Linked DNA regions of Homo sapiens. The protein of the gene in region 4 purifies or fractionates together with the protein of the main gene of each other region. This does not show direct contact. Each region holds a gene or a part of one and is shown on either strand. Other genes may lie near its edges. The genes, in order: ARHGEF26, RNF146, RIC3, ZMYM1, POLD3 and ABLIM1.

Evidence for each region.
Region 1: the proteins of ZMYM1 (region 4) and ARHGEF26 purify together in Homo sapiens (co-immunoprecipitation; one large-scale study listed by IntAct). This does not show direct contact.
Region 2: the proteins of ZMYM1 (region 4) and RNF146 purify together in Homo sapiens (co-immunoprecipitation; one large-scale study listed by IntAct). This does not show direct contact.
Region 3: the proteins of ZMYM1 (region 4) and RIC3 purify together in Homo sapiens (co-immunoprecipitation; one large-scale study listed by IntAct). This does not show direct contact.
Region 5: the proteins of ZMYM1 (region 4) and POLD3 purify together in Homo sapiens (tandem affinity purification; one large-scale study listed by IntAct). This does not show direct contact.
Region 6: the proteins of ZMYM1 (region 4) and ABLIM1 purify together in Homo sapiens (co-immunoprecipitation; one large-scale study listed by IntAct). This does not show direct contact.

Annotation. Positions count from the first base shown.
Region 1 is NC_000003.12:154,250,390-154,253,889, forward strand, and holds part of ARHGEF26 (rho guanine nucleotide exchange factor 26), read left to right. Parts: exon of another isoform or gene 1-838; intron 839-932; exon of another isoform or gene 933-2,726; coding exon 2,727-2,794; exon of another isoform or gene 2,795-3,500. UniProt on the Homo sapiens protein: Activates RhoG GTPase by promoting the exchange of GDP by GTP. Required for the formation of membrane ruffles during macropinocytosis. Required for the formation of cup-like structures during trans-endothelial migration of leukocytes.
Region 2 is NC_000006.12:127,275,998-127,281,239, forward strand, and holds part of RNF146 (E3 ubiquitin-protein ligase RNF146), read left to right. Parts: intron 1-4,233; 5' UTR 4,234-4,341; coding exon 4,342-4,343; intron 4,344-4,518; exon of another isoform or gene 4,519-5,242. UniProt on the Homo sapiens protein: E3 ubiquitin-protein ligase that specifically binds poly-ADP-ribosylated (PARsylated) proteins and mediates their ubiquitination and subsequent degradation. May regulate many important biological processes, such as cell survival and DNA damage response.
Region 3 is NC_000011.10:8,161,564-8,166,805, reverse strand, and holds part of RIC3 (protein RIC-3 isoform a precursor), read left to right. Parts: intron 1-5,242. UniProt on the Homo sapiens protein: Molecular chaperone which facilitates proper subunit assembly and surface trafficking of alpha-7 (CHRNA7) and alpha-8 (CHRNA8) nicotinic acetylcholine receptors.
Region 4 is NC_000001.11:35,077,050-35,083,054, forward strand, and holds the start of ZMYM1 (zinc finger MYM-type protein 1), read left to right. Parts: upstream 1-2,335; 5' UTR 2,336-2,393; intron 2,394-6,005.
Region 5 is NC_000011.10:74,622,518-74,627,759, forward strand, and holds part of POLD3 (DNA polymerase delta subunit 3), read left to right. Parts: intron 1-2,890; coding exon 2,891-3,056; intron 3,057-5,242. UniProt on the Homo sapiens protein: Accessory component of both the DNA polymerase delta complex and the DNA polymerase zeta complex.
Region 6 is NC_000010.11:114,437,496-114,442,737, reverse strand, and holds part of ABLIM1 (actin-binding LIM protein 1), read left to right. Parts: intron 1-951; coding exon 952-1,016; intron 1,017-1,660; coding exon 1,661-1,721; intron 1,722-2,648; coding exon 2,649-2,656; intron 2,657-3,487; coding exon 3,488-3,562; intron 3,563-4,813; coding exon 4,814-4,894; intron 4,895-5,242. UniProt on the Homo sapiens protein: May act as scaffold protein. May play a role in the development of the retina. Has been suggested to play a role in axon guidance.

The DNA.
Region 1 (3,500 bases), on a different chromosome or scaffold from region 4:
GGGTGGGACTCACTCAATTGAAAGTCTCAAAAAGCTGCTCCTTTTAGTGATAGCAACAAGGAGTGTCTTGTTCTATCCTCTGGAGTCCCTGTGAGGGGTGGCCATGTCTAAGAGATGCTATTAGCATCCAGGCAGCATGCCACAGAAGTGAAAGATTTCATCTGGACTTCTGGAAACTGGCTGTAGGGCAAAGCCACTGCTGATACTGGCCACTCAGTGCCAGAGACGGTGTCTGTGTACAGGAAGATCTGCCTCACTGGCTCCAAGTTGCTCTAAATTGCTCCAGAAGACAGCAGTATAGGCTATGTATAATTTGTTTCAGTATGGCATAGAGAGACACAAATGGATCATTTTAGATTTCTCTTGGTGAGCAACACTTCTATTCATGAGGTATTTTGTTTTCGATTGGCTTTGTACTTTGCAAATTCCACTTGAGCCTGTGTAAAAAATAGATCTTATTCCCAATAAAGACATCATAGCAAAGATACAAGTGTTTGCCTGGGAATTATTTTACATGAAGTTGTGCTTTGCTTATTTCTTACAGAACTATTGTAAAGCCCTTTGTCCTGTATTAGAGAGAGAGAGAGAGAGAGAGGTTTTAAAAGCAAGACAGGAGCCTTGGCTTCTATATAAATTGTGCATATTACTACTTGACACACCATCTTGATCAAGGCCCAGCCTCATCTTAATCTTTGAAAATGCCTGTCTTTCAAGATACCACAGTTTCCACCCTTCCTGCCTTCCATCATTATTTTGTAAACACCTGCTGCGTAACACCACCTCTTTGATTTCAGACTGCCTGGGTTAGGTGCTTAACATACCAGACTTGCTTTGTCCTCTGAAAAAAATAGAAATAATTTTGGTAATATTTTCTTTTCAAGATTGTTGTAAAAATTAGATTAGATGATACTTGCAATTGTTTAGTACCATACCTGACACATAGGTGCTTCAGAATATTATTTAGAACAAGGCCCAATTCCTGCCATTCTGGAGTTTATAGCCTGGTAAGAGAAGCAGATGAGTCAGTAAATGATTGGGCTCAATATGTGATGAGTTATATAATTCATTCATTAGCAGACATATACTGAGCCCCTGTTACGTGTTGGGCAATGTTGTAGAGATAATGCAGTGAACCAAATGGATAAGCTGCCTGCTTTTATGAGGCTTACTGTTGACCAGCAATATAATAGAATTGTGCAGAGGGGTGCCCTAGAAACAGGATTATCAGACTGGGATGGAGATGGAAGGATTGGTTTATGTATCAGAGGAGCCCCCACTGGAGGAAGTGAGCCTTGTGTTTTCAGCATTGAGTGGATATATGTTGAGCAAAAGAAGCCAAATACAAAAGCATACATACTAAAGGATTTCATTTGCAAAAAGTACAAAAGAAGCATGGTAATAGAAATTCCATGGTAATGGAAAACAAGAGCAGTCACCTTTGGACAGAGGTTATTGATTGGAAAGGGTCAGAATGGAAATGCCTGGCGCATCTGTGTCTTGGTAAGTAAACACAGAGCTGTACACGCTTATGATTAACTCAGTTTATGTTATGTATGTTAAGAAATTTTAATGGCAATAATGAGTGGGCTTATCTACGCAAAAACAGGGAAGGAATAGGAAAGGCTGGGGCAAGGGTGCTATGTTCCAATGCGGTAAGTCATCCTCTCTGCCTGGGTTGGAAGGATGCATATGGGGATGAAGGTGGGGTGACAGCGACAAGCATCTGTAGATTCAGGCTGCTATGAGAGAAGAGTTTTTTTCCCCAGGTGTTGGTCATGAAGGCATTTTTTCTTAAGAATGTAGAGTGGCACAGTAGAAACTGACTTTGGTTTGAATTGCTTGCCTCTGAACTTCTGTCTGATCTTAGCATCCTTCAGATGGGCTTTTGAGAGGATTACATGGAATAGTGGATGTTGAGTGCAGTGTCTGACATGTAGCATGTGTTTAATAAATACATAAGAGAGTTAAAAGTATGTGTGTGGCGGGGCAGTATTTAATTAATTGTAATTTTAATACTTGGTGCTCAAAATAAAAAACCAGGGTGACTGCATTATGTAGAGAAGTGCTTGCTTATCTGAAACTTTTGATCCTTTAGTTGAATAATTATTTTTATGTAATTATAGCTTAATATTATATTAAAAGTATTGGTCATTTTTCCTGTGCTCATTAAACCATTTTAAGCATTTGGGAACAGTGTAAAAGTGGCCAAAGAATTTCTATTTCAGTAAGACTCATATTTGGCAAAATTAGTTGTATGAGGGATGAGACAACTAAATATGTCAAGTTTCTCAAGTTTACGGAAAGGTTTGAGTGTGTGGGAAGGGAAGTGGGGAGGAAGCAGAGAAATTAGTAGGATTTTTAAAAAATGAAACTTAACTGCTTTTGAAATGTTAAACATCAAATTATGGGTATGCTAAATACCTTTTGGAGTTATAATGTGTTCGTGTAATCAGCTCCTTATTAACTTTTAAACTGTCATATGGGAAGTTCCTTTTAATCAATAATGAGCCAAGTTCATTCAGACTCTTTTGACAATGATGACTAGTCTCCTGCTTATTTTAGACTTTCCAGCTTATCACTTTTAAACTACTCTCACCCTGTTTTACCATACCTCTCTAGAGAATCTCTTGTTTTCTGGGAGTGCCTTTGCATTGGCTGCCTAGAAAACACTCCATTCTGTGTTTTTACACCTTGAGTCTCTCAGTTGGATCTGCCCTCTGTTTTAGGAGCGAGCGAGCCCGCTGGATAACTGCCCTGGGACACAGCAGCGGGAAGCCGCCTGCAGACCGAACCTGTAAGTTCTCTCAAGGGGAAGCCCACTTGGGAACATGGATGGGCTCTGCCCCCTGCTGGACGCCGGGTTACTAACGAGTTATATTGCCACAATACTTGCCTAAGTTTCCTCCAGGGCTTCCTTCTGCTTTACACCAAAAATGTATGATCCTTGCTTTGGAAGTCAGGGGGTCTGAATTCAAATCCAAGGTGCATTTCTTTGTTGTGTAAACGTGTCAAATCATTGCTTAGCATTGCAGAGCCTATTTAACCATCTGCAAGTCAGTTACACCATTATATACAACATGGGGTTATTGTGAAGATTAAGTTAAATAATCTATGTTAAAAGCCCTACTTGAACTGTAAAGCCCTTAAATTTTTAGCTATTATCAGTGGGCAACAGTTGATCATGTTTAAACCTTCTACATACTGACAGTCTGGATTTAAGCTGAAAAGTATTTTTAATCTAAAAGAAAATTACCTAAGAATTCTTTTTGACCTTCTAAGAAAGTGTGTTTCACTATTCTAGAGAATTAGAAACTGGCGCAGTGAAGGGGGGTGTTGTATGCCTATTAGCTTCCTAACTTTGATGCTGTGGTTTCTTAGATTATTACAGTTGCAAGGTCAAATCCAAAGAATTAGAACAAAACATTGTTATCCTGGAACACTCAAAAATTATAGCTTTAAGCTTAGATTAAAAGCCAAAATGACTGGTTTGAAAGTTCCCG
Region 2 (5,242 bases), on a different chromosome or scaffold from region 4:
AAGAAACCTGGTCCATTTTGCCTTTTAAATATATCAGTCAGTCCTAGCTACTTGGGAGGCTGAGATGGGAGGATCGCTTGAGCCAAGCAGTTTGAGGTTTTAGTGAGCTATGATCATGCCACAGCATTCTAGCCTGGGAAACAGACTGTAGAGTGAGTGTATGTGTGTGTGTGTGAGAGAGTGAGAGAGAGAGAATCTCACTCAAAGGCTTAATAAATGAGGGTGATACTGACACAAGATAATCAGGCTGAACAATAGTCCAGGTGAGAGTTATGTAGGTTTAAACTAGGGCACTAGCAATGGGTAGAGAGTACAGGATAGATTCCAAAGGGATTAGGAATAAAAGTTGACAGAATTTATGGTGTGGTTGGTTGGGGTGGGGGAGCAGGGGGCTGTGTGGTGAGAGAAAGGACTTTCTCTTTTTCTCCATGAACACAAAGTAGTTAAGACATGAAACCTGAGATGTCATATTGTAAGAATTATGCAGAAATGGGGGTTTGTAAAATGTGTGTATATGAGATAAAGATATGAGGGGGCCAAGGGTTCTGTTAAGAAGTAAAAAAGATTGGGTTCCAGAATGGGCAGGAAAGGAAATGAGATCAGGAACTGGATAAAGGAAAGGAGATGGTCAAGAGATGGTAGGTCCCCATGAAATTGAAGAGCAGGTGTGGGAATGAGTAGGCTGGAAGAACCAGAGCTTGTGATCTGAGAGTCGGATTAAGATTTCAGAGAGGCAGCAGTTTAGGTGACAACTAGCTTTAAATGTGATTATAATATTTGGTTGCTGGAGAGTAGATTAATTTCTTCAAATTTAGGATTTAAGGAACTGAAAATTGAGGATGGTGTTTCTCAGATTGTATTTGAAGGACTAAAGCATGAGTACCACCTGGGGTGAGATTCCTAGGTTTAAACCTATGTCTACTGGCCTAGAATTTCTAAGGAAAGGGGCTGAGAATATGTATTTCTAACAAGCAATTTCAGTGATTCTGATGAATAGAAGTTGGGACAAGTTTAAGAACCTGTGCAATAGGTGTTGGATGGTTCATTTTCAAGGCTATTTAAATAGGCTGATAGTCATGTCAGGAGTTAGGATGAAGAGGATGATCAGTAGTGAAAAGATGACATTAATCCCTTACAGGTGGTGAGAGAGCAGTTTTAGGGGATTATGGGGTATGTTAAAGTCAGTGTGATAGAGACTTGAAAGAAAAAGTAATGATGTTGGAGCAGTAAATTGTCTCCTCCTGTCCTATATATAGGGAGTGTATGAAAATGTGCAGTTTTCTGTTTGGCGTAGGCTGCAGCAAGGAAATGAACATAGCCTTCTTTGATGCCATTGAAGTTGTAGGCTCCTTGAAGTTGGTGAAAGGGTTGAGAGGAAAGTCAAAATAGTGGAGTCCATTTCATCTAAAGTCAGAGTAAAACAAAAAGGTTACTTAGAAACCTTGTTTAGTCAGTATATTAGGCAGTGTTCTCTAGGGGGACAGAACTAATAGAATATATATATGAGTTTATTAAGTATTAGCTTACACGATCACAAAGTCCCACAACAGGCTGTCTGCAAGGAGCAAGGAGAGCTAGTCCGAGTCCCAAAACTGAAGAACTTGGAGTCTGATGTTCGAGGGCAGGAAGCATCCAGTACAGGAGAAAGATGTAGGCTGGGAGGCTAGGCCCATCTTTCTTTTTCACATTTTTCTGCCCGCTTTATATTCACTGGCAGCTGATTAGATTGTGCCCACCAGATTAAGGGTGAGTCTGCCTTGCCCAGCCCACTGACTCAAATGTTAATCTCTTGGCAACACCCTCACAGACACACCCAGGATCAATACTTTGTATCCTTCACTCCAATCAAGTTGACACTCGGTATTAACCATCACAGTCAGTTACTTTTGAAAGTTCTCTGATTTTAAAACAAATTGTTTGTTCTGTTAAACATTTGGTAGGATAAGTCAGCTTGTATTTAGGGGCCACATAATGGCATTAAGAATATGTTTCTTTAAACACTAGAATCTTAAGATACCGTAGGGAGATAGATGCCCATAGTATGAGAGCCACATGGAAATAAAAGAAGATTGAAGTCTCCTCTATCTTGTGTTTACTGTGAGATCTATCATTTCTTTAGTTATCATGTGTTCTTGATTATTCTGTGTAATATGATGTGCGTCCTGTAGTGGACATGGTGAGGTGGAGATGGAAATACTAAATGAGAAGAAAGAAGATTAATGACTGAGATGGTACAGGTTTTTAAGAGTACAATTCCATGTAGTTAATTTCATTTACAATGTTATGCAACTATCACCATTATAGATTTTCCACAACTTTTTTTTAGCATTACAAACAGAAACTCTGTACCCATTAGGCAATAACTCTCCACTTTCCTTCCTTCACTCTCTGGTAACTTCTGATACCTTCTGCTTCTATGAATTTGCCTATTCTTGATATTTCATGTAAGTGGAATCATACTTTTCTGTATGTGGCTTATTAGTATGTTTTCAAGGTTCATCTATATTGTAGCACATATTTCTTTTTATTACTGAATAATGTACTGTTGTATTTATAGACCACATTTTGTTTATCCATTCATCTGTTGGTAGATACTTGAATTGTGTCCACCTTTTGCCTAATATTTCCGCAGTGAATATTGGCATACAAGTGTCTGAGAACCTCTTCAATTCTATTGCTATATCCCTGGGAGTGGCATTGCTGTGTTAGCTTTTTGAGGAAGCAACAAATTATTATTCACAGCAGCTACACCCTTTTACCTTCCTACCAGCAGTTTTCAAAGGTCCTATTTTTCTACATCCTCACCAACACTTATTATTTTTCCCTTTAAAAAAGTTGTAGCCTCCTTATAGATGTATCATTGTGATTTTGATTTACATTTCCCTAATTACTAATAATGTTAAGGATCTTTTTGTGTGTTTATTGGCCATTTGTGTATCTTCTTTAAGTTCTTTACTCATTTTTTGCTCACTTTTTAATTGGTTTGTCTTTGTTGTTGAGCTGCAGTTCTTTACATATTCTGGATATTAAACCTTTATCAGATACATGATTTGCCAAGATACTCTCCCATTCTGCAGTTTGTCTTTTTATTTTCTTAACAGTGTCTTTTGATGCACAAAAATTTTAAACTTATATAAAGCCCAATTTATTTCCTATGTTTCTCATGCTTTTGATGTCATATCTAGGAATCCATTGCAAATCTAAGGCCATGAAGATTTGCTCCTGTGTTTTCTATTAAGAGTTTTATGGTTTTATTTCTTATATTTAGGTTATTGATTCATTCTGAGTTAACTTTTATATATAGTATACGGTAGAGGTCCAGCTTAATTATTTTGCATGTGGAAATCCAGTTGTCCCAACAACATTAGTTAGAGGTGCCTGTTTTCCCCCATTGAGTAGACTTGACACCCTTTTGGAAAATCAGTTGGCTATTGATGTATGAGTTTATTTCTGGACTCTCAATTCTATATCATTGGTGTATTTATCTGTCCTATGCCAGCACCAAACTGTCTTGTTACCTTAGCTTTGTAGTAAGTTTTGACATTGGATTTTTCAAGATTGTTTGGGTTACTTAGGGTCCTTTGCAATTCCATATGAATTTGAGGATTGCTTTTCCATTTCTGCAAAAAAGGTTGTTGGAATTGTGATAGGAATTATGTTGAATCTGTAGATCACTTTGGGTAGTATTGTCATTTTAATATGTTAAGTCTTCCAATCCATACATCACTTGTCTATTTACTTAGCTCTTCTTTAATTTCTTTCAGTAATGCTTTATAGTTTTCTGTGTACAAGTCCTTCACCTCCTGGGTTAAGTTGATTCCTGGCTATTTTATTCCCTTAGTTACTTTATGAATGAACTGTTTTCTTGATTTCTTTTTTGGATTGTTGTCTCCTGGTGTATCAGAACACAACTGATTTTTTTGTGTGTCAAACTTGTAACCTGCAACTTTGCTGAATTTGTTTATTAGCTTTCTTGGGGATTCTATGAGATCTTCTATCTAGAGAGAATAGACATAGTTTTACTTCCTCCTTACCCGTCTGTATGCCTTTATCTCTTTTCCCTAATTTGCTCTGCTAGAACTTACAGTCATGTTGAATAGCAGTGGTAAAAGCATGCATCTTGTCTTTAATTTTTCCCACTTTTAAGATAAAGTTTTCCACTGAATTTTTTGAAAGGATTATACATAATTAACTGATTCTCTTGATCTTAATTACTCTTTTTTTCTTTTGCAGCACAAAGAATGAACCAGCAGTGGAAGAGAAAATACTGTAAGCTGGCTGACTGCTGGTGAAGAAAATGCTTTATTTTTGTGGCAGGCATCTGTGGGATCTGTAATAGAAATGTAAGTGTAGCATCATGGTTTTTTTCAGTGCTGCAGTAAATTAAATGGATTGGTTTAACGTGTGGTAAATTGAGTATCTGTCATATGTAGTTTTAATTATATTAAATGAGCATTTTCTTTTGACTTATAGGTGCTTTATTAACAATTTATTTACATTAAGTTATCGTTAATGTAGATTTCCAAGTCTCCTCAAAAGGAAAAGTCTCTATAAGAAAAACTGAAGACACAGGAGTTTGCTCAAAGAATGCTGAAATAGATCTCCAGGTCCTCTGGGTTCTACCTTCTTTTTACATAATAATTTTCTTAAATAACTAAGCTAGGCAAGTAGTACTAGCTTTTGTAAATAAGACAGACTACTAGGTTATAAAAACTCTAGTTACTAAAAACTTGTTTCACTAAATTAAAGGAATTTCTACATAATTGATTTTTTTAATGTAATAATACATCACTGCATTTTATTCATATCACTTCACTCTGATCCCCAGTTTTACTAGTTGTGCTTTCATCATTTATCTTTGCATGATATGCTTTAAAGTGTTACACACTACCTTGGATTTGTCCATATTTAACTTCACCGTATTGATGAAACATTTTTCACTATGAATATATTTCTGTTTTCTAAATTCATATAAGCCCTATGCAACTTGATGTCATTCATGAAAAATGTAGTGAATATTTTATTGACTTTTAATTACAGTGTTTTTCTTATTAGAGCAAGAGTGACCTTGGTAGATGCTATTTCACATTTTCCCAGTTTGACATAAAACTCTTGCTTTCTACTCTTCCAGTATGATACTGGTTACATGTAATGATATGTATTAACAATAATTAATTTATTATTAAAAGTATGACCATATTATTTTTATTCAGTATTGAAAATTTGATAATTGAAAAATGAT
Region 3 (5,242 bases), on a different chromosome or scaffold from region 4:
GGCTCAACTGATCCTCCCACCTCAGCCTCCCAAGTAACTGGGACTACAGGCACATGCCACCATGCCTGGCTAATTAAAAAAAATTTTTTTTGTTTTTGGTTGAGATGGGGGTCTCATTGTATTGTCCAGGCTGGTGTCGAACTCGTGGGTTCAAGTGATCCTTCTGCCTCAGCCTTCCAAAGTGCTGGGATTACAGGCTTGAGCAACTGCACTCAGCCTAAAACTGTATGTTCTCTCTAGAAAAAGGTACATACTCTTATTGTACTCAGAATTTCAGTATCAATTCAGAGAATTCTCAGAACCCAGAAATCCCTGCTTTGAAGAAAGGAATAACCCTGAGTATTTGAAAATTCTTAAAAATACATGTTGTTATGTCTTCCATTTTTGCCCATTGATGTGCATGAAACAAGCACAGTTCCCTTTCCACATGAAAGCCTTTAAGATAGTCTTTTAACAAATATTTATGATGTACCATATCACATACTGTGCACATAGTGTATAGACACTATGTATTCCAAGAAAAAATGAGCGAACTCCATGCTTTGAGGCGGCCACAGTTTAGTAAAGGAAAGTAGACATGTCAACAGATAAATGCAAAACAGACATGTTAGCAGATAAATGCAAGAGTGTCAGTCACAGTTACTCAAGTCTGCGCAGGGAACAATGGAGACATGTATGCAATGGTCAGTGTTATTGGGACTTAAGAAGGGTTTCATAAACCAGGTGTGACAGCTCATGCCTGTAATCCCAGCATTTTGAAAGGCTGTGGTGGAAGGATTGCTTGAGCCTGGGAGTTCGAGACCAGCTTGGGCCACATAACAAGACCCCCATCTCTACAAAATAAGTTTGTTTTTTTTCAATTAGCTGGGCATGGTGGTGTGCACCTGTAGCCCCAGCTACTCTGTAGGCTGAGGTGGGAGGATCGTTTGAAGTTTGGAGGTCAAGGCTACAGTGAGGTGTGATTGTGTAACTGCACTGCAGCCTGGGCAACACAGTGAGACTCTGCCAAAAAAAAAAACAAAACAAAACAAAAAAAAAACCCCAAAAAACAGGTTTCATAGAACATAGAGGAGGGAAGTCTTTTTTTTTTTTGATAACAGCTTTCTTGAGATCTAATTTATATATCATACAATTCACCCACTTAAAGTGTACAATTTATTGGGTTTCAGCATATTCAGAGTTGTACAACCATCACTACAACCAATTTTAGAATATTTCTTCAGCCCCCAAAGAAACCCTGTACTTTTTAGCTATTACTCCACAAATCCCCCAGCCCACCTCCAGCCCTAGGCAACCACTCATCTACTTTATGTCTCTATAGATTTGCCTGTTCTGGACATTTGGTATAAATGAAATCATATAATATCTGATCTTTTGTGACTGACGTCTTTTAACTAGCATAATGTTTTCAAGGTTCATCCATGTTGTAGCATGTAGCAGTACTTTTTTTATGGCTGAATAATATTTCATTGTGTGGATATACCACATTTCATTTATTCATTAATCAATTGATGGACATTGAATTTTTGCCTTTTAGCTATTATGAATAATGTTGCTACTGATATCTGTGTACAAATTTTTGTGTAGACTTAATGTTTTCATTTCTCTTGAGTGTATACATTTGGAAAATGTGAGCATTCCAGTGTGGCTGGAACTAAGCGTGGAATTTCTAGGTTGTATGGTTATTACATGTTTAACCTTTTGAGGAACTGCCAGACCATTTTCCAAAGCAGCTGTACCATTTTACATGACCACCAGCAGTGTAAGAGGGCTTCTGGTTTCTTGTCAATACTTGTTTGTTATCTGTCTTCTTGATGATAGCCATCCTAGTAGGAATGAAATGGTATCTCATTGTGATTTTATTTGCATTTCCCTGATGACTAATGACATTGAGCATTTTTTGTGTGTTTATTCACTCTTTGTCTATTTGTATATCTTGTTTTGGAGAAATGTCTATTCAGGTCCTTTTAACCCTCTTTAAAAGTCAGATTACTTGTCTTTTTTTTTTTTTTTTTTTTTTTTTTGAGAGAGACAGGGTCTCACTCTGGTGCACAGGCTGGAATACAGTGGTGCCATCATTGCTCACTGTAGCCCCAAACTCCTGGGCTCAAGTGATTCTCCCACCTTACCCTCCCAGGTAACTAGGACTACAGGTGTGTGCCACCATAGCTGGCTAATTTTTAAATTTTTTGGCAGAAATGAGGCTCTCACTATATTTCCCAGGCTGGTCTTGAACTTCTGGCCTCAAGTGATCCTCCCACCTTGGCCTCCTGAAGCACTGGTATTACAGGTGTAAGCCACCACACTTGGCGTCTTGTCTTTATTGTTGAGTTGTAAGAGTTCTTTGTATATTCTAGGTACAAATCTATTATCAGATATATGATTTGCAAATATTTTCTTCCATTCAGTGGTTGCCTTCACGTTCTTGATGGTGCCCTTTGAATAAGAAAAGTTTTACATTTTCTCTGACAAAGTCCAATTTATCTACTTTTTTCTTTTGTTTCTCCTGCTTTTGGTGTCATATCTGAGACAAATTGCCAAATCCAAGGTCATGAAGATTTATGCCTATGTTTTCAAGTTTTATAGTTTTTGCTCCTGCAGTTAAGTCTTTGATCCCTTTGAATTAATTTGTGTATATGGGTAAGGTAGGAGTCCAACTTCATGTGGATATATAGTTGCCCCAGCACCATTTGTTGAAAAGACTCTTCTTTTCTCATTAAATTGTTCTGGCACCCATGTCAAATCAGTTGACTCTAAATGTAAGAGTTTGTTTCTGGACTCTCAATTATATTACATTAATCTGTATACTTATCCTTAGCCAGTACCATGCTGTCTTAATTATTGTAGTTTTCTAAGTTATGAAATCGTGAAATGTGTCCTCAAACTTTGTTCTTCTTTTTCAAGATTGTTTTGCTATTTTGGGTCCTGTGACCTAGCATTTCCATAGGAATTTTGGATCATCACTTTGGTTTCTGCCAAAAAAAAAAAAAAAAATGCCAGTTGGGATTTTGATAGAGTGAACTGAAGCAATTTGGAGAGTACTGCCATCTTACCAATATTAAATCTTTCAATCTATGAACAGAGGATTTCTTTTTTATTTATCTAGGTCTTTAATTTATTTTAAAGGAGATTGTAGTTTTTAGTGTGAAAGTCTTATTTTGTTAAATATATTCATAAGTATTTTATTCTTTTTGATGTTGTTATAAATTTTGTTTTCAGATTGTTCCTTAGTGTATAGACAATTAGTTTTTGTATATTGATACTGTATCTTGTCACCTCGCTGAACTTGTCTGCATATAGAGATAGTTTTACTTTTTTTTTTAATCTGAATGCCTTTTATTTTTATTTTTACTTTTTTTGGCCTAACTGCCCTAGCTGGAACCTTTAGTGCAATGTTGAATAGAAGTGGTAAGAACAAACATCCTTTCTTGTCCTTGATCTTAAGAAGTATGCTTTACTAGCATATGTAATGTTATCTGGGGGCATTTCGTAGATGCCTGTTTTCAGGTTGAGGAAGTTCCCTTGTATTCTTAGTTTGCTGAGTGTTTTTCATTATGAAGGGGTATTGAATTTTATCAAATACTTTTTTTCTATGTCTGTTGAGATGATTATGAGATGATTATGTGAGTTTTGTCCTTTACTGATGTGGCATATTACATTAATTGAAATTTAGATGTTAACCCAGCTTTACCTTCCTTGGCTAAATTGAGGAGGCAGTTCTTAAAGTGTTTTGGGGGGTGTGTGTGTGTGTGTATGTGTGTGTGTGTGTGTGTGTGTGTGTGTGTGTTTAAATAATCCAGATGAAAAAGAAGGGCATTCTAGGTAGAAGAAATACTGAGCAAAGAAACACAGAGGCTTAGGGCCAGGCACGGTGGCTCATGTCTATAATCCCAGCACTTGGGGAGCCCAAGGCAGGCAGATTGCTTGAGGCCAGGAGTTCGAGACCAGCCTGGCCAACACGGAGAAACCCCGTCTCTACTAAAAATATAAAAATTAGCCCAGTCTGATGGTGCACGCCTGTAATTCCAGCTACTTGGGAGGCTGAAGCAGGAGAATTGCTTGAACCTGGGAGTTGGAGGTTGCAGTGAGCTGAGATCCCACCACTGCATTCCAGCCTGGGCGACAGAGTGAGACTCTGTCTCAAAAAAAGAAAAAAAAAAAAAAAAAAAAAAAAAAGAAGAAGCATGGAGCCTTGAAGTATCCTCAGAGTTGTGAGAGAAGACACCAGAGAAGTTGGCACGGGCCAAATTGTGAAGGTTTTTTTCTGTCATTCTTAAGGAGATTGGGTTTTATTCTAAAGGCAGATGAGGCATCATTGAGTGTGTAAGGAGAAGAGAAACATTTAACCTGGTTTTAGAAAGGACACCCTGGCAGCAGTGTAGACACTGCGTTGTGAGGATTTCTTCAGGGAGAAGATTGTTGTAGTCATCCAGTTGAGACATCATGAGCATCACCAAGTCATTGTCATTGGGTTCACCAGTTAGGGTGCTTGTGACAAGTGACAGAAAAGTCAGCTTGACTAAGACAGGGAATTTATTGACTTGTGTAAATGAAAAGACCCTGTGTTAGAAATGTCTTGCAGTATGGTTTGAACCAGAGACTCACAGTTGTCACACTGGGGCTCTAGCTCTTATTTTCTGTGTCCTTTTCACTCTGGGTTCGTTCTCAAGTTGGTTCTGTGCTCTGGCTGCCCTCTCAGGGTGGTAGCAATGGTTGCAACAGTTTCGGACATTACCTCCTCACATTCCATTGCCCGGAGAAAGTGAGTGTCTCATTTATAGCAACAGTTTCGGACATTACCTCCTCACATTCCATTGCCCGGAGAAAGTGAGTGTCTCATTTATAGCAACAGTTTCGGACATTACCTCCTCACATTCCATTGCCCGGAGAAAGTGAGTGTCTCATTTATAGCAACAGTTTCGGACATTACCTCCTCACATTCCATTGCCCGGAGAAAGTGGGAGTGTCTCATTTATATACGTGTGTGTGTAGAGCTGGCCTGGAACTCCTGGCCTCAAGTCATTGTCCCACCTCAGCCTCCTAACGTGCTGGGATTACAGCACTTTGCTGGGCACAGCTCCAGGCCTCTTTTCTTTTAAGTCCTCCATCACTCTCACCTTCCAGCCTCACTCCCAAGATTCTTTCCCAGAAGTTCCAGCAAACATATCCGTTCACGTTAATGGCTTGAATTAAGTTAACTTGTGGTGCTGTGGGTAGAAAGAATATACTGATGAATCCACTC
Region 4 (6,005 bases):
TTCAGGGCAAGAAAGACGCATGAAACTTGTGACCTACATCTACTGCTTGAAATATTGGGCCAAATTTTCAGATCTATCACTGGGGGTGGTTGGAATATCACATCTCAAAATTATCACACATCCTTACAATTTTTTATGATATCATGAATCCTACCATTTTTTCAACTCAACTCCCAAGGAAGTTAGTAATGACGATGAAACCACCATTGCAAGATTATGACTGAGACCATGAAGGAGATCTAACCTAATGGACTCCATCTTGGTTCTAACTTTAAACTGTCCTTGTTCCTTCCTGGGCATAGGCTAAACTAACTTTGGGAGGAATTTAGTTTATAGTTTAAAACAAAGACAATAACAGCCCTTTCCCAAAACAAACCTCCTCCTTGCCTGGGGACTAGACTGCCTTTATAAGATTAACAAATTAGCCACAAGATTAGAAATTATGGTTTAGGAGTCATGCAGCTGGAGGCCAAGATTCTGACCCTCCCTAAACTGCTCCTGAGACCAGTGCTTGAGATATTTTGCAGACCCTGCACTTGATGGATCAGCTGGTACCACCCAGATAGATAAACAGGCTCATCTGATCTTGTGGCCCCCACCAGGGAACTAACTCAGCGCATGAGGACAGACAGCTTCAACTTCCCATTATTTCATCTCCTACCTAACCAATCAGCGCTTCTGGCTCACTGGCTTCCCCCCACCCACCAGTTGTCCTTAAAAACTCTGATTCCCAAATGCTCGAGGAGACTGATTTAAATAATAATAAAATTTCAGTCTCCCGCACAGCTGGCTCTGCGTGAATTACTCTTTCTCTATTGCAATTCCCCGTCTTGATAAATGGACTGTGTTTAGGTAGCGGGCAAGGTGAACCCACGGGGCATTTACAATGACATCACTTGCCTTTGGATGCCCACTGAACCAGGACTCATTTCTGGGTTCCAATCTAATCCCAGTCACTGAGTTGCTGTGTAACTTGGGGCAAATTACCTTTATCCTCTTGCCTTCAGCTTTTCCTTTGGTAGGAAGGGAGCATTAGAGGAGAGATCATTTCAGTAAGGTCCTTTCTAATCCTAACAGTCTAAACAGATTATTATGAATATTAGAAGGTAATAATAAATGTTGGAGAAATTAACTTCAGTTACTCGTATAATATTTCAAATTACCAAAGGGTTTATATTAGATTTGAGGCTAATTCCAAAGGATATTTAAGGACCATAGCAGCAAGGATTAGGAGGCCCTTTTGGTCTGGACCTCACCTTCACAAGGGCCTCAAATTTAGATTTTTGAGAATATCTCCTTTAAAAGTAATTGTCAAATATGATTATAATAAGTTCATCATTCAACCTTATATATATATTTTAGAATCCTCTTATGCCTTTAGGAATAGCACAGTTAGTTCGTCCTATACTTTTTTAGGTGTTGAAAGTATTGTCAAAAAACATTTAAAATATGCCATTATTTTTGACATGCAGTTTGGGGTTATTTTAATTTTTTTTTTTTTTTTTTTTTTTTTTTTTGAGACGCAGTCTCTCTCTGTCGCTCAGGCTGAAGTGCAGTGGTACAATCTCAGCTCACTGCAACCTCTGCCTCCTGGCTTCAAGCGATTCTCCTGCCTCAGACTCCCAAGTAGCTGGGATTACAGGCGCCCGCCTCCATGCCCGGCTAATTTCTGTATTTTTAATAGAGACGGGGTTTCACCATGTTGGTCAGGATGGTCTTGAATTCCTGAACTCAAGCAGTCCACCCGCCTCGGCCTCCCAAAGTGCTGGAATTATAGGTGTGACCCACCACACCCAGCCTGGGGTCATTTTAATTTTAACGTACTAATGAAAGAAGTCTGAACTCCCTCCCTACCTCTGAGGATAATTTCCTTTTACTAGGAATTTACTCTGCAACTGGCACTTTGCTAACATTGCCTGTCATATTTTTTTTTTTTGAGTCCAGCTTCTGCAGAAGCCTGCCTAATGTTTACAAACCTACGATGCAGCCACTACAATTATCCCCATTTCAAGGTCGAAGAAATGGAGATTTATAGAAGTTGTCAAATCGCTTACTAGCACACAGCTAATAAGTAGTAAAGCCATCTCTCAAATCCAGGAAATCTAACTGCCCTGCCTGAGCTCTGAGTCAAGGGTCCTACTTTGGCTGCCAGCCAGCGACGACTTCAAGGGTAAGATCCTATGCGGGCCGTAAGGACTCTTCCCCTCCCCCTCTCCCACTTCTTCTATCCCAAAGTCGCTCTTCCCAATTCAGGGAGCTGGGACCACCCTGAGCCAGCGGCCCTGCGCATGCTCAACCGCAGAGCACGACGGGAGAGGGGCGGGGTCGGCGGGGCCGTTTCGCTTCGAAGATTGTTTCAGAAGCGTTGGGCGGGGCGTCCCTGAGAGAAATTAGTAAGCCTCCTCATGCGGCTCTGGTTTCGGTCTTTACTCCTGCGCCTTACTCGAAAGGGGCAGGGTTTCTGCTGTCGGTCGGAGGGAGGATGACGCGCCGGGTCGGGGTTTTAGAGACGGAGCTTTGAGTGCGGATTCCGCCAGATGGGGGTCGGGAACTCCGGGCCAGGCCCTGACGTGGATTGTGTTTGCCGCCTCCTTTAACCTTGCCCTCATAGACTGGGGGGGTTAGTGCTCCCCGCTTCCAGCGATTCTCGCCGCCTCCTGCTCCTGTGTAGTAACTGGGCCTTCAGACTTTAGTCTCGCTCCGCAGCCTCCGTTTCAGAAGCCCCATCACACCTGTATCTCTCCTTCATTGAGCAGTGATTTTTCAAAAGTTTGACTCCTGGCCGGGCGTGGTGCCTCAAGCCTGTAATCCCGACACTTTGGGAGGCCCAGGCGGGCGGATCTCTTGAGGTCAGAAGTTCGAGACCAGCCTGGCCAACATGGCAAAACCCCGTCTCTACTAAAAGTACAAAAATTAGCTGGGCTTGGTGGCAGGCGCCTGTAATCTCAGCTACTCAGGAGGCTGAGGCAGGAGAATCGCTTGAACCGGGAGGCAGAGGTTGCATTTAGTCGAGATCGTGCCACTGCACTCCAGAGCGAGACCCCGTCTCAAAAAAAAAAATGAAATGTTTGCTGAACCCCAAAAGCACAGTTTGAACGCTGCTGATTTACAAGATTAATTTTAAGGTATTTGGTATCAGGGACCTTCCTGACATGACCCATGTCTACTTTTCAAACTTTCCAGTTCCTTCTACTAGCACTCTTGCACTTGTACTTTATCTGCAACAACAGTCCCACTCCTTCTAGTTCCCATATATTTGTGCTTCTTTTTTTTTTTTTTTTTTTGGAGACTGGGTCTCGCTCTTTGGCCCAGGCTGAGTGCAGTGACACGATCACGGCTCACAAGCAGCCTCAGCCTTCCGAGCTTAAGCGATCCTCCCACCTCAGGTTCCAGAGTAGCTGGAACAACAGGTGCTCCCCACTACGCCCAGCTAATTTTTGTATTTTTTGTAGAGACAGGTTATCTTCATGTTGCCTAGGCTGGTCTCGAACTCCTGAATCGAAGCAATCCACCTGCTTGGGCCTCTCAAAGTGCTGGGATTACAGGCTTGAGCCACTGTGCCCGGCTATTTGTGGTTTTGTACATGCTGTCTCTATACCAGGAATATCCGCCATCATTGGTTGGTAGACACTTTAAAACCCAGCTCAAATTTCACCTCCCAGAAGACTGACCGTCTTCTTTTTTCATTTCTTCTCAGTACCTTGTATATACTTACTGGTTGGGACATCCTACTCATCAGTGTAACCCGGTACCAAGGCACTTCGGAAATGATGGCTCTTCATTGCCTGCAGAATTAACCATGGACATTTTAGTTTGGTTTGAAAAACATATAGCCTTCTGCCTCCAGCCTTCCCATCAGGCTAGTAAAAGACCTTGCAGAACTCAGTTGAATAAAATAATTTTTTTTTTTTGAGACAGCATTTCACTCTTGTCTCCCAGACTGGAGTGCAGTAGCGCGATCTCAGCTCACTGCAACCTCCACCTCCAGTTCAAGTGATTCTCCTGCCTCAGCCTCCCAAGTAGCTGGGATTACACCACACCTGGCTAATTTTTGTTTAGTAGAGACAGGGTTTCACCATGTTGGCCAGGCTGGTCTAGAACTCCGACCTCAGCTGATCCACCCTCTCAAAGTGCTGGGATTGCAGACAGGAGCCACCGTGCCCGGCCGAATAAAATAAATCTTAGCAAAGTGTAATGTATAAAGAAGTGGTATAATGCGAAGAAATAAGGGATAGGAGTATATCTGCTTCCAGACTCTGTTTTGTTTTTGCTTGTGTCCATACCACACTATCTTAATTTACTGTAGCTTTATAAGCCCTTCCAACATTTTTTTTTTTTGATATTGTCTTGGTTATGCTAGGCTCTGTATGCACATTGTATATACATTAGAATTACCTTACAAATTCCACAAAAACCCCTGCTGGGATTTTCATCTACAGCTTAATTAGGAGAAAAATTAATATTGACTCTTTCCATCAATGAGCATTTATTTAGATCTTCCTTAATTTCTCTCAGCAATGTTTTGTTTTCACTGTAGAGTTCTTTAATAGCTTTCATTAGATTTATTCCTATATTTGATATTTATGATGCTGCAGAAAATGGTTATTTTTATATTTTTCTGTTCTAGTATAAAGAAATAAAATTGATTTTTTGTTTGTTTGTTTGAGACGGAGTCGCACTGTGTCACCCAGGCTGGAATGCAGTGGCACAATCTCGGCTCACTGTAGCCTCTGACACCCAGGTTCAAGTGATTCTCCTGTTTCAGCCTCCTGAGTAGCTGGGATTACAGGTGCCCACCACCATGCCCAGCTAATTCTTTTGTATTTTTAGTAGATACGGGTTTCACCATGTTAGGCTGGTCTTGAACTCCTGACCTCAGGTAATTCACCCATCTCTGCCTCCCAAATTGCTAGGATGACAGGCGTGAGCCACTGCACCTGGCCAAAATTTATTTTCGAATGTCTTGCTAAGCTTAATAACTTGGAGATTCTTTTGAATTTTCTTTGTATAGAATCATGTCATCCATGAATAATAACAATTTTAACTGCCTTTTCAAAGTTTGTCTTTTATTTTTTCTTGCTTTATTGATCTAACTAGAACTTCTACTACAATGTTGAAGATAAGTGATAAGAAAAATTCTAAAATGCGGATCTTGTATTATCCTATAATTCTGCTGAATTCACTTATTCTAATAGTTTCTTTTGCGGGGGGTGAGTTGGGGGAGGTTCCTTAGAGTTTTCTATATGCAGTCATGTCTACAAATAAAAAGTTTTCTTCCTTTCCAACTTTTTTTTTTTTTTAAATGGAGTCATGCGCTGTCACCCAGGCTGGAGTGCAGTGGCATGATCTGGGCTCACTGCAACCTCCACCTCCTGGGTTCATGCAGTTCTCCTGCCTCAGCTTCCCGAGTAGCTGGGATTACAGGCGTGCACCACCATACCCAGCTAATTTTTGTATTTTTGGTAGAGATGGGGTTTCACCATGTTGGCCAGGCTGGTCACGAACTCCTGACCTCAAGTGATCCGCCTGCCTCAGCCTCCTAAAGTGTTGGGATTACAGGCGTGAGCCACCACGCCTGGCCTGCTTTCCAACTTTTATGCTAAATTCCCATCTACTATTTTACTTTAGCTTAAAGAATTTCCTTTAGTGGCCGGGCGTGGTGGCTCACCCCTGTAATCCCAGCACTTTGGAAGGCTGAGGCGGGTGGATCACCTGGGGTCAGGAGTTCCAGACCAGCCTGGCCAACATGGTGAAACCCCGTCTCTACTAATAATACAAAAAATTAGCCAGGAGTGGTAGTGCATGCCTGTAATCCTAGCTACTCAGGAGGCTGAGGCAGGAGAATCACTTGAACCCGGGAGGTGGAGGTTGCAGTGACCTGAGATTGTGCCATTGCACTCCAGCCTGGGCAGCAAGAGTAAAACTCTGTCTCCAAAAATAAAAAAAGAATTTCCTGTAGCATTTCTACAGTGTTTTCATTTGTCTGAAAATGTCTTTATTTTGCT
Region 5 (5,242 bases), on a different chromosome or scaffold from region 4:
AAAGTTAATTTATTTGACATTTCTTCAAGGCTGAATGTTCAGAGTAAAATTATGACTTTTTTATTGTATTCGACACATGACAAGATCATTACAATGAAAATGAAGCTTGAGAATTGGATGAAGAGAGTTCACTGTGGGGACTTGAACCATTTAAAACTTAATACTGGACAGTAACAAGTGTTGGCAAGGATGTGGAGAAATTGAACCCTTGTGCTCTGCTGTAGGGAATGTAAAATGATGTGTACTCACTTTGGAAAATGATGTGGCAGTACTTCTAAAAGTTAAACATAGAGTTTACCCAGCAGTTCCTCTCCTAGATATCTACACAAGGGAATTAAAACTGTATGTCCACACAAAAACTTGTACAAGATGTTCATAGCAGCATTCTTCATAATAGCCAAAAATTGAAACAATCCAAAAGTCTGTCATCTGATGAATGGATAAACAAAGGTGGTATATCCAGACAATGAAATGTTATTCAGCTATAAAAAGTAATGAAGTACAGATGGATATGTGATATGACATGGATGAACCTTGAAATATTAAGTGAAAGAAGCCAGATAGAAAAGATCATATATTATTTCATTTATATGAAACGTCCAGAATAGGCAGGTCTATAGAGACAGAAAGTAGGGGCCGGGTGTGGTGGTTCACGCCTGTAATCCCAGCACTTTGGGAGGCCGAGGCGGGCGGATCACGAGGTCAGGAGATCGAGACCATCCTGGCTAACACGGTGAAACCCCATCTCTCCTAAAAAAATACAAAAAATTAGCTGGGCCTGTTGGTGGGCGCCTGTAGTCCCAGCTACTCAGGAGGCTGAGGCAGGAGAATGGCGTGAACCCAGGAGGCGGAGCTTGCAGTGAGCCGAGATCACGCCACCGCGCTCCAGCCTGGGCGACAGAGAAAGACTCTGTCTCAAAAAATATATAAATAAATAAATAAGTAAATAAAGGTTGTCAGGGGCTGGACTGGGGTTGAGGAGGAATGCTAATGGGTTCAGGGTTTCTTTCTGGGGTGATGAAAATGCTCTAAAATTGGACAGTGATGGTGGATATACAACTAAAACGCTGAATGTAAAGTGATGAATTTTATTGTATGTGAATTATATCTCAATTTTTAAAAGTAACGCTTTATATGTAATAAAATTCAGCATTGATGACAAAATTTAAAGGTCATAATTGGTTATCTTTATTTGCTTGAAAAGGTTTCGTGTTTTCTTGAGTATAAAAAGGAAATGCTTTTAATCAGCTAGAAGATAGGTGACTTGATCATTCAGGTAACAAAAAAAGTCATTAAATTTTCCTTAATAATTGCCTTACAATGTTGCATTAAACTACCTCTTTACCAGTTAATTGGCTATTGGTAGCTGCATATATGTTTAAGTTGGAGTTCTCAAAATTCTGTGAAACCAAGACAGAAGAAACTCTGGATGCTGAATCTAATGTTTGATCAGTGGCATTTTAATTCAGATCAGTTTTCTGTAATTGGTAAACTCAATGCAATAGCCTCTCTTTCCTTAATCCATAGGTAGGTAGGAAGTATTTGGAGGTTTTTTTCTCCTAATGATGCAATTTTTAAAACAATTGCTATTAAAACAATATAATTTATGTGATAGATTGCAAAATTTGCATAAATTTTAAAGCTACACATGTGACTCCAGTGAACTGTATTTTTTGGATTGGCTGTTGACCCCTAGACCCCTGGAGATGCATGTTTACTCTTCTATACAATTTGGGATATTTGAGAGGCACTGATACTTGAGAACAACAGTTGAAAATGCAAGAGTATGCCATCGTTGGGAAGGTGGATTCCACCATTCGCATTTTCCATTCAAGTCTTCAGGAAAAAGAAAAGTATAAATAGATTGCATTTTACACTTTGGTCCATCAACTACCCTTCAAATAATACACATTATTTATAAATTATTGTACTAAGCTATGCATAATAGCCCAGACTATGATACCAATTTTTTTCTACACTGTAGATGGTTTAAGCTATTATACAACATATAACCAAAACTACTTATTGAAGCACCTCCAGCTAATGACAGCTTTCTAATAGTATTTTGTGCCTTTACTTGTGAAAAGCTATCACTAAGTACAGCGTGAAGGCTAGATGACATGCTTCTATAGTTCCTCAGATGGCTAGGCCTGTTTGCATTTCTTAGTTCTCCCTGCTGCACTGTAGTCATTCTTCAGCTTGGTGTAGGGAAAGGGTTAAGGACTTTGAGGAGTTAAACTGACTTTGGTTCAAATCCCTACTCTTTTCTGTCAGTGTTACCTGGATAAATCATTTAACCAATACTGATCTCTTTTAATCCTTATGATAATCTTGTAAATATTATCTCAGGTTTAGAAAAGACTGACTTAGATAAAATAACTTGCCCAGAGTGAAGCGGGGTTTGAACCAAACTTCTTTGACTCCAAAATAGTCTTTAAATTTTATCATTAAGGTAGTAGTGAGATATTAAGGGTATCCAGGCATTAAAAGATAGAATATATAGAAAGCAAAGGTCTTGCTGCAAATCGTTGTCACCATTTGTAAACTGTGTATTGTTGGGAAACATCTTGTAATCCTTCTGATTCTTGATTTTCCTCATCTGAAAATGAGAAGGATGATGCCTCATAAAGTTGTATGTGTTTTTTCTAAGCCTTGCTTTTACTATCATTTAGCCTGGGGGCTGTGATACAATGAGGGATTAGCAGGAGGCAGAAATGAAAAGTTACAGTTAGAGTGGTAGTTGGAAAGGAGGAATGTTTCTGAATAGTCCATGAGCTCCTTTTTGCCCCTGCTCCTAACATATTACCTGGCACATGGTAGACTGTCAAAAGAATGATGTATTAATATTGCATGATGGGGTCATATGTCGTCTGCTATACTTTATTTATAGATAAATTTAAAGTCAATTTGGACTCAGAACAAGCAGTGAAAGAAGAAAAAATAGTGGAGCAGCCTACAGTGTCTGTCACGGAACCAAAGCTGGCAACTCCTGCAGGCCTGAAAAAATCCAGCAAAAAAGCAGAGCCTGTTAAGGTGCTGCAGAAGGAAAAAAAAAGGTAGGAAAATTTTGTTGCTTATTGGGGAAGAGTCTTTACTGGGGGTGAGAAGGTCTCTTTGGGCTTATTGACAGCAGGCAGTTTTCAGTTAAGTACTAAATCCTACTTAATGCCTAAGGGATACAACTATACAACCAAAATGGAAAGAGAAGCCCAGTAGCTTATCTAGTGGAGTAGGACCGTAGGATCAGCCAGTTTGGATGATTTAAGGACCAAAGTCGTGTTTTTGGCCGTATTGATCTAAATTGATTGTTGATTTTTGTTTTAAATTTGTGGACATGGCATAAGTGTGCCTAGTTGTGTGTGTGTGTGTGTGTGTGTGTGTGTGTGTGTTTCACTTCAAATTGCCAAATGAACAGTTACTGTTTCCAGTCAAATTTAAGAGAAAAACTTCTTTGTTTTCTTTTTATATCAATGAGTTTATTTTTCAAGTGGTAAAATGTAATTAGAAAAGAAAATAAAAAGCACATAAAGCTATTAAAACTAGATCCAGGAATTGGAGACACTACCTCATAGTTGGTAGAATTAGTCTGCTGAAAGAAATTCTAAAGGACACTGTCAACACTGATAGGCCTAGAAAGACGACTTTTGTGGCAAGTTTGGGACTACTCTCGTTGAAAACATCAACAAAATGGTGAAATTTTAGAGGGTTAAAGCTCTGTCCAGTGGGCCTCACCACCTAGGAACATATGACTTGTATGGATTAAAATGTCCACAACCATGGGTACGTCACTCACTGTTGATACTTATTGCCAGCAGTGCATTCAGTATTTCACTACTAAATGTGATGATAAATGTAGATTTTTAATAGATGCCGTTAACCAGATTGAGGAAGTTGTTTTTTGTTCCAAGTCTGCTAAGAGGTTTTATCATGAGTGGGTATTGATTTTGGACAGATGCTTTTTTGAATTGATTGGATGCTCAGATGGTGTTTTTATTAATGTGGTGAATTACACTGATTTTAAAATGTTAGGCCAACCTTGTGTTCTTGGGATAAACTCCACTTGGTTATGATGTATTATCCTTTTTTATATATTGCTGGATTAGATTTGTTAATATTACACTAAGCATTTGTTGCCTGTGTTTATGAGGTCTACAGGTCAGTTACATTCTTTTCTGGTAATGTCTTTATCAAGTTGCTGTGTCAAAATTGTGCTAACTTCATAAGATTACTCATGCGCTGCATAACGATGTTTGGGTCAACAATGGGCTGCATATATGACAGTGGTCTCGTAAGATTATAATGGAGCTGAAAAATTCCCATTGCCTAGTGACATCATAGCTGTCATGACATGGTAGCGCAACACATTCCTCACGTGTTTGTGATGATGCTGGTATAAATATACCTACTGTGCTGCCAGTCATGTGAAAGTATATCATATATATTAATAGTTATATATACATAATACTTGATAATAAAAATGACTATGCTACTATAATTACTGCACTATACTTTTTATCATTTTAGAGGGTAGTCTTTCTACTTATAAAAAAAGTTGACTGTAAAATAGCCTCAGGCAGCCCTTAGGAGATATTTCAAAAGAAGGCATTGTTATCATAAGAGATGACAGCTTCATGTGTGTTACTGCCCCTGAAGAAGACCTTCCAGTGGGACAAAATGTGGAGGTGGAAGACAATGATCATTGATGATCCTGACCCTGTGTAGGCCGAGGCTAATGTGTGTTTGGGTCTTAGCTTTCAACAAAAAAAGTTTAAAAAGTAAATAAAAAATTTTTAAAATAGAAAAAGGCCTATAGAATAGGGATATAAAGAAGAAAATATTTTTGTACAGCTGTACAATTTTTTGTGTTTTAAGCTGTGTTATTACAAAAGAGCCAAAAAGTTATAAAATTGAAAATACAGTTAAAGTAAGCTGTTTATTATTGAAGAAAGAAAAACATTTTAAAATAAATTTAGTGTTGCCTGAGTATCCAGTGTTGATAAAGTCTACAGTAGTGTACAGTAACATCCTAGGGCCTTCACATTTCACTCACCGCTCACTCACTGACTCAGCCAGAGCAACTTTCAGTACTGAAAGCCCCATTCGTGGTAAGTGCCCTATACATGTGTACCATTTTTAATCTTTTTTATACAGTATTTTTACTGTATCTTTTCTCTTTTTAGATGTTTAAATACACAAATACCGTTGTGTTACAGTTGCCTACAGTATTGAGTACAGTAACAAT
Region 6 (5,242 bases), on a different chromosome or scaffold from region 4:
TCTCTATTTTAGAAATCAGGAGGCTGGTATAGAAATTGAGTTAACATACCCAGCGTGATACGCCAATAACTAGCAAGACTAGGATTTAGAAGTCCACATATTATAACCCCGGAGCCCACACCCTTACCTGGAATTCCCGCTACCCTTCATAGATGCCTCACTGGCATTGATCTTGGATTCGGTGGTTTACAAATCTTTAGAGTTCCTTGGAATTCTGAGATTCTGCTCTATAAGAATGTATAACATTGTACCTGCATAGATGAAGAAATGAGGACTTCAGAAAGATTAAACACCATGTCCGGAGATACAGAGGTATTAAGTTGCAGAACCAGAATTCAAGCCCAGGGCTGCTCCCTCTCAAGCCCAGCAGCTTATCAGGCTTCCATATCATTGACAGATACCCTGTATCAGGCCTCCCAGGAGGCCAGCTGTAGATGGCTGGTAGATCTTGATAACATACAGGGTTGGCTTCCAGTTCAGTTACTGCTGCCTTATCAACTGGGGCATGGGCTAATGTATTCAGATATCCCTGATTTACATCCTTGCTCAGCTGTTTAGAAGCTTAGTAACTGTTGGCAGGATATTTTTCTTAGCCCCTATTTCTCCTTCTGTAATATGGAACTAATAATCATAGTGTTATTAGGGTTATATTGAAGATTCAAAGAAATAAAGCATGCTGAACACTTAGCTCCATGCCAGAGCTATAGGAAGCACAGCCAGCTTCAGCCCCCACTCAACCGCGTGGACTTGACTTTCCCTTCCCTCCTCAGTCATATCACTGTCCACCCACTCCTTGCAAATATGATGGCATATTTTTGAACATTTGAGCCCAATATGATTTGAATTTTTTTGGTATTTCTATCCTGTGAGGTAGAAGATACTGCCAATTTCATTAAAGGATTGGACCTTCTGATTTCCTAACAATTGGTTTTTTACTTTTTTCTTACTCAGCTTCACATATTCCATCATCTAAAACTGCATCTCTCCCTGGCTATGGAAGAAATGGGCTTCACCGGGTAAGATTTCTCCCCGATTCATTGTTTCTGCCTTTACTCCCACCTCGGCCCTGGTTGAAGTATTGACACATTGCCTGAATACGTCTGACTCTTGATCTCAGTGTTGGAACATAATGAAAATTTTAACCTCCCTGGTTGCCTAGTAAATTAATTTGAGTTACAGGCAAAATAAAATGTTTCTATTGAGAGAAGAAGAAATTAACTTTAGATAAAAGAATGGCTTGTGTATGATTATGGGAAAACTAAATTGCAAAACTGTATGGCAAATATTTTTTACAATGAAACAAAAAGTAATTACTTGAACCATTATCTTTGCTGTAAAAAGATATAAGAATGTGTGTTATAACCATCCTCCTCACAAAAGATGGAACAAATACAATTATGTAACTATGTAGGACAATGCATTTTTATTTATCAGCAAGAGATCCCTGCTTACCAAGAGCCTGCTGAGTGGTGGCATTAGTACACTAAAAAAGACAAAGAGATGGCATAGCAGTAGAAGAATCATAGGGAAAAAAAAAATGAAGGTCTGACATTTAGCTTGGGAAGAATTCCTAGGATTTTGTAAACTCTTTCTTCCTTTTCACCTGACTCCAAAACGATCACTATGGAGATTTCCTAATAATTGTTTTTCCTCATTTCAGCCTGTTTCTACCGACTTCGCTCAGTATAACAGCTATGGGGATGTCAGCGGGGGAGTGCGAGGTGAGGCTCCCATGGCCAGGCTGAGCATGGCCACGTCTTCCCTCGAGGCTGAGGTTCATGAGAGTCAAGTATACTGGCTGTGTTCATGCTGTATTGTATCCTTAGAGTAGGATCACATCTGTCTTCTGTGAGCTAATAGGGCAATTATTTACAAAATTTCAAAGAATATCTAATGAAATCAAACTGTAAGAAGTGAGTTTGTGAGAATTTATTCATTGCTCATACTATGTGCTGAGCACTCTATCAGATACCTAGAGGCCAGGCATGGTGGCTCATGCCTGCAATCCCAACACTTTGGGAGGCTGAGGCGGAAGGATTACTTGAAGCCAGGAGTTCTAGACTAGGTTGGGCAACAAAGTGGGCCTGTCTCTACCAACAACAACAAAAACAACAACAACAAATTATAATAATTAGCTGGTGGCACATGCCTGTAGTCCCAGCTACTTGGGAGGCTGAGGCAGGAGAATTGCTTAAGCCCAGGAGTTCAAGGCTGCAGTGAGCTATGTTCATGCCACTGCACTCCAGCCTGGGTGACGGAGCAAGACTGTCTCTTAAAAAAAAAAAAAGTAACTGGAGGTACAACAATAAGTGAGACATGGCCCCTGCCCTCAAAATGCATATGGCAGAAAGAAGGTCTGTGTGATGAACATTGGGATCAGAGATGCAGAGAAGGAAGCAGTAAGTACCTTTAGGTTGTCAGCGAAAGCTTCCAGGGGAAAATGTTTTAACTGTTAACTAACACTGGACCAGGCATTTCTTGGCTTCAGGGAGGCTGATGGGATAACATGTGCAGAGTCTGGGAGCAGAAAAAGAACATGGTTTATAGGGCGAATATGTTGGGAATTTCAATATAATATAGTCTGTGAATGGTTCCTTGCTTTTCCATGGTCTTTCCCTTATGATATTTTCTTTTCCTTTCCTTTTCAGATTACCAGGTATGGAACACTTTGTCTTTCTTGAATTGGCCACACCGATAGAACAGCCATGTTCCAACCCAGACTGCTGGCTCCAAGGCAACAGTTTCTGTTGAGAAGATGCTTGTTGTGGTTGATCTCTCTAGTCATTACTCTATAGCCGTGAAGAGCAGACATGCCTGGTGCCTGGGTCAAGCTGTCCCTGCAGGCCTTGGGGACACTGCATGAACCAGGCCAGGTGTAGGGGGTCTCTCTTGCTTTGGCCTTGGAGAGTCCTCTCTGGGGTGGAAGTGGACCAGCATCAAGGGTCTGCTCATATACAGTTTTTCTTCTTTTAATTATAATCTCTCAGTACTTTAGGCCACCCTTTTCCTGCGCGTTCTCAAATGAAAAGACACTGATGTCTTAGCCAATAGGAGAGAGCAGTTTGCCCTCATGACATTCCTTTCTCACTAGAACCTCAATCTTGTTAAAAAAAGAAAGAAAGAAATGTGATGGAGAATAAGAAAAGAAGAAAAATGCATAGAAAATCATGATTAAAGATAAGAAACTAACAATAATAGACTTGGGCATCTTTTAAATGTACTATATGCTTTCATTCATGGAGCCTAATTCAGGAATTTGTCCATAACCATCAAGCCAAGATCTCTCCCCAACTTGATTGCAAAAGAGCTGTATTCCTGTTCCTATACAGCAAGGATCTCATTTTGAAAAATACATGGTCATTTAGATGACACAAATAAAATAGTGGTTAGGATTGGAGACCCAACAGGGAATTGGGAGCCCAAGAGTACTCCCTTCAGTTTCCTAGACTATTTCATGCCTCACCTGGAACTGGCATTTCTGTTGCAGACACTCCCAGATGGCCACATGCCTGCAATGAGAATGGACCGAGGAGTGTCTATGCCCAACATGTTGGAACCAAAGGCAAGTGCAGCTGTTCTTTTTCCTCTCATATGGGAATGGCGTAACCCTAAACAGATTTGATGTTCTATCTTTTCATCATTCTCAAAGTGTTGTAGGCTGGTGTGTTCAGGTGAGCCATGTCATGAATATGCACCTTGCCATTCTGCTGTTTTGCCCACATCAGGTCAGCAGGTTAAACCCTTACTGGGCATGATGCTGTGTGTTTACAGTGAGGTGCCAGTCCCTCTCTGCCTATGACCAAGGTATTCCCTTGGCCTCTGCCATGTGCATTACAGAGCATATCCGGTGCTGAGTGGAGTGGCTGCAGACTCACCATGTAGGTGAGGCAACCCTGTTTCACCATTGAAAGCCCTGCATTTCAAGAACCTCAGTCCTGGGTACACTGGGGTGACTGGCCACCCTAGCTCCAGAGCACCCTGTACCTTCAGAGTTGTCCAAGGGCTCATGCTCCCTGGTGACCATAACCAGGGCTTATTTCAATATGGCAGTTGCCAGAGCACTGCTTCTGGGCCTGCCTGGCCCCATAGATTCATGAGCTAGTCATGGGACAAGATTGTTAACCCCAGCACAAATGCACCCTGCCCTATAACAGCATCCTATAAAAGGTAACACATTGGCTGGGCACAGTGGCTTACGCCTGTAATCCAAGCACTTTGGAAGGCCAAGGCGGGTAGATGGCTTGAGTTCAGGAATTTAAGACCAGCCTGAGCAACATGGCAAAATCCCATCTCTACTAAAACTTAAAAAAAATTGCTTGGCATGACGACATGTGCCTATAGTCCCAGCTACTCGGGAGGGTAAGATAGGAGGGTCACCTGGGCCTGATAGGTTGAGGCTACAGTGAGCTGTGATCACACCACTGCATCCAGCCTGGGCAACAGAGCAAGCCCTGTCTACAAACAAAAAAAGAAAAACAAAAACAAAAAACACGTGCCTGTAATTTCCATTATCTTCTAATGTTTACCTTCATCCCAATACATAGTAAGTTAGTGTTCTGCCACTCAACAAAGCCCCCCTAAGGCTCAGTGCTACCTGAGACACTGGTGGAAAGTTGAGAATGTCTAAGATTCTGTCCCTGTCCCCTGGAAACTGGAGCTTCCACTGGCCTTGCAGAAGGAAGACCCATCACTCGAATTCTGTCATGACAGTCTCTTGGAAGCTCTATCTTGGGAGTACTAGCGTTTAGGTGGATTCTGCTTGTTAATAAAATGGACTGTGGTGTTCTAGAAGAGGTGTTTTCTTTCTTCTCAGATATTTCCATATGAAATGCTCATGGTGACCAACAGAGGGCGAAACAAAATCCTCAGAGAGGTGGACAGAACCAGGCTGGAGGTAAAACAAAACCGAAAAATCCAGTCCCAACTGCAGATCCCTATGCACTCCCCCAACTCTCCCCTAAGCAATGTTTTATTTCTTCAGTGAAAACAAAAAAAAATTATAAAGATCACCCTCATGTCATAGGTAGAACTAAGAAATAACTTTGGAGAAAAAAAATATCCAGGTTTTCACTTAGATCAGCATAAAAATGCCTGGTAATATCCAGAAGAATGACCCAGGAGGTGGGCATGGTGGCTCACGCCCATAATCCCAACACTTTAGGAGGCCGAGGTAGGCAGATCACTTGAGGTCAGGAGTTCAAGACCAGCCTGGCCAACACGGTGAAACCCTGTCTCTACTAAA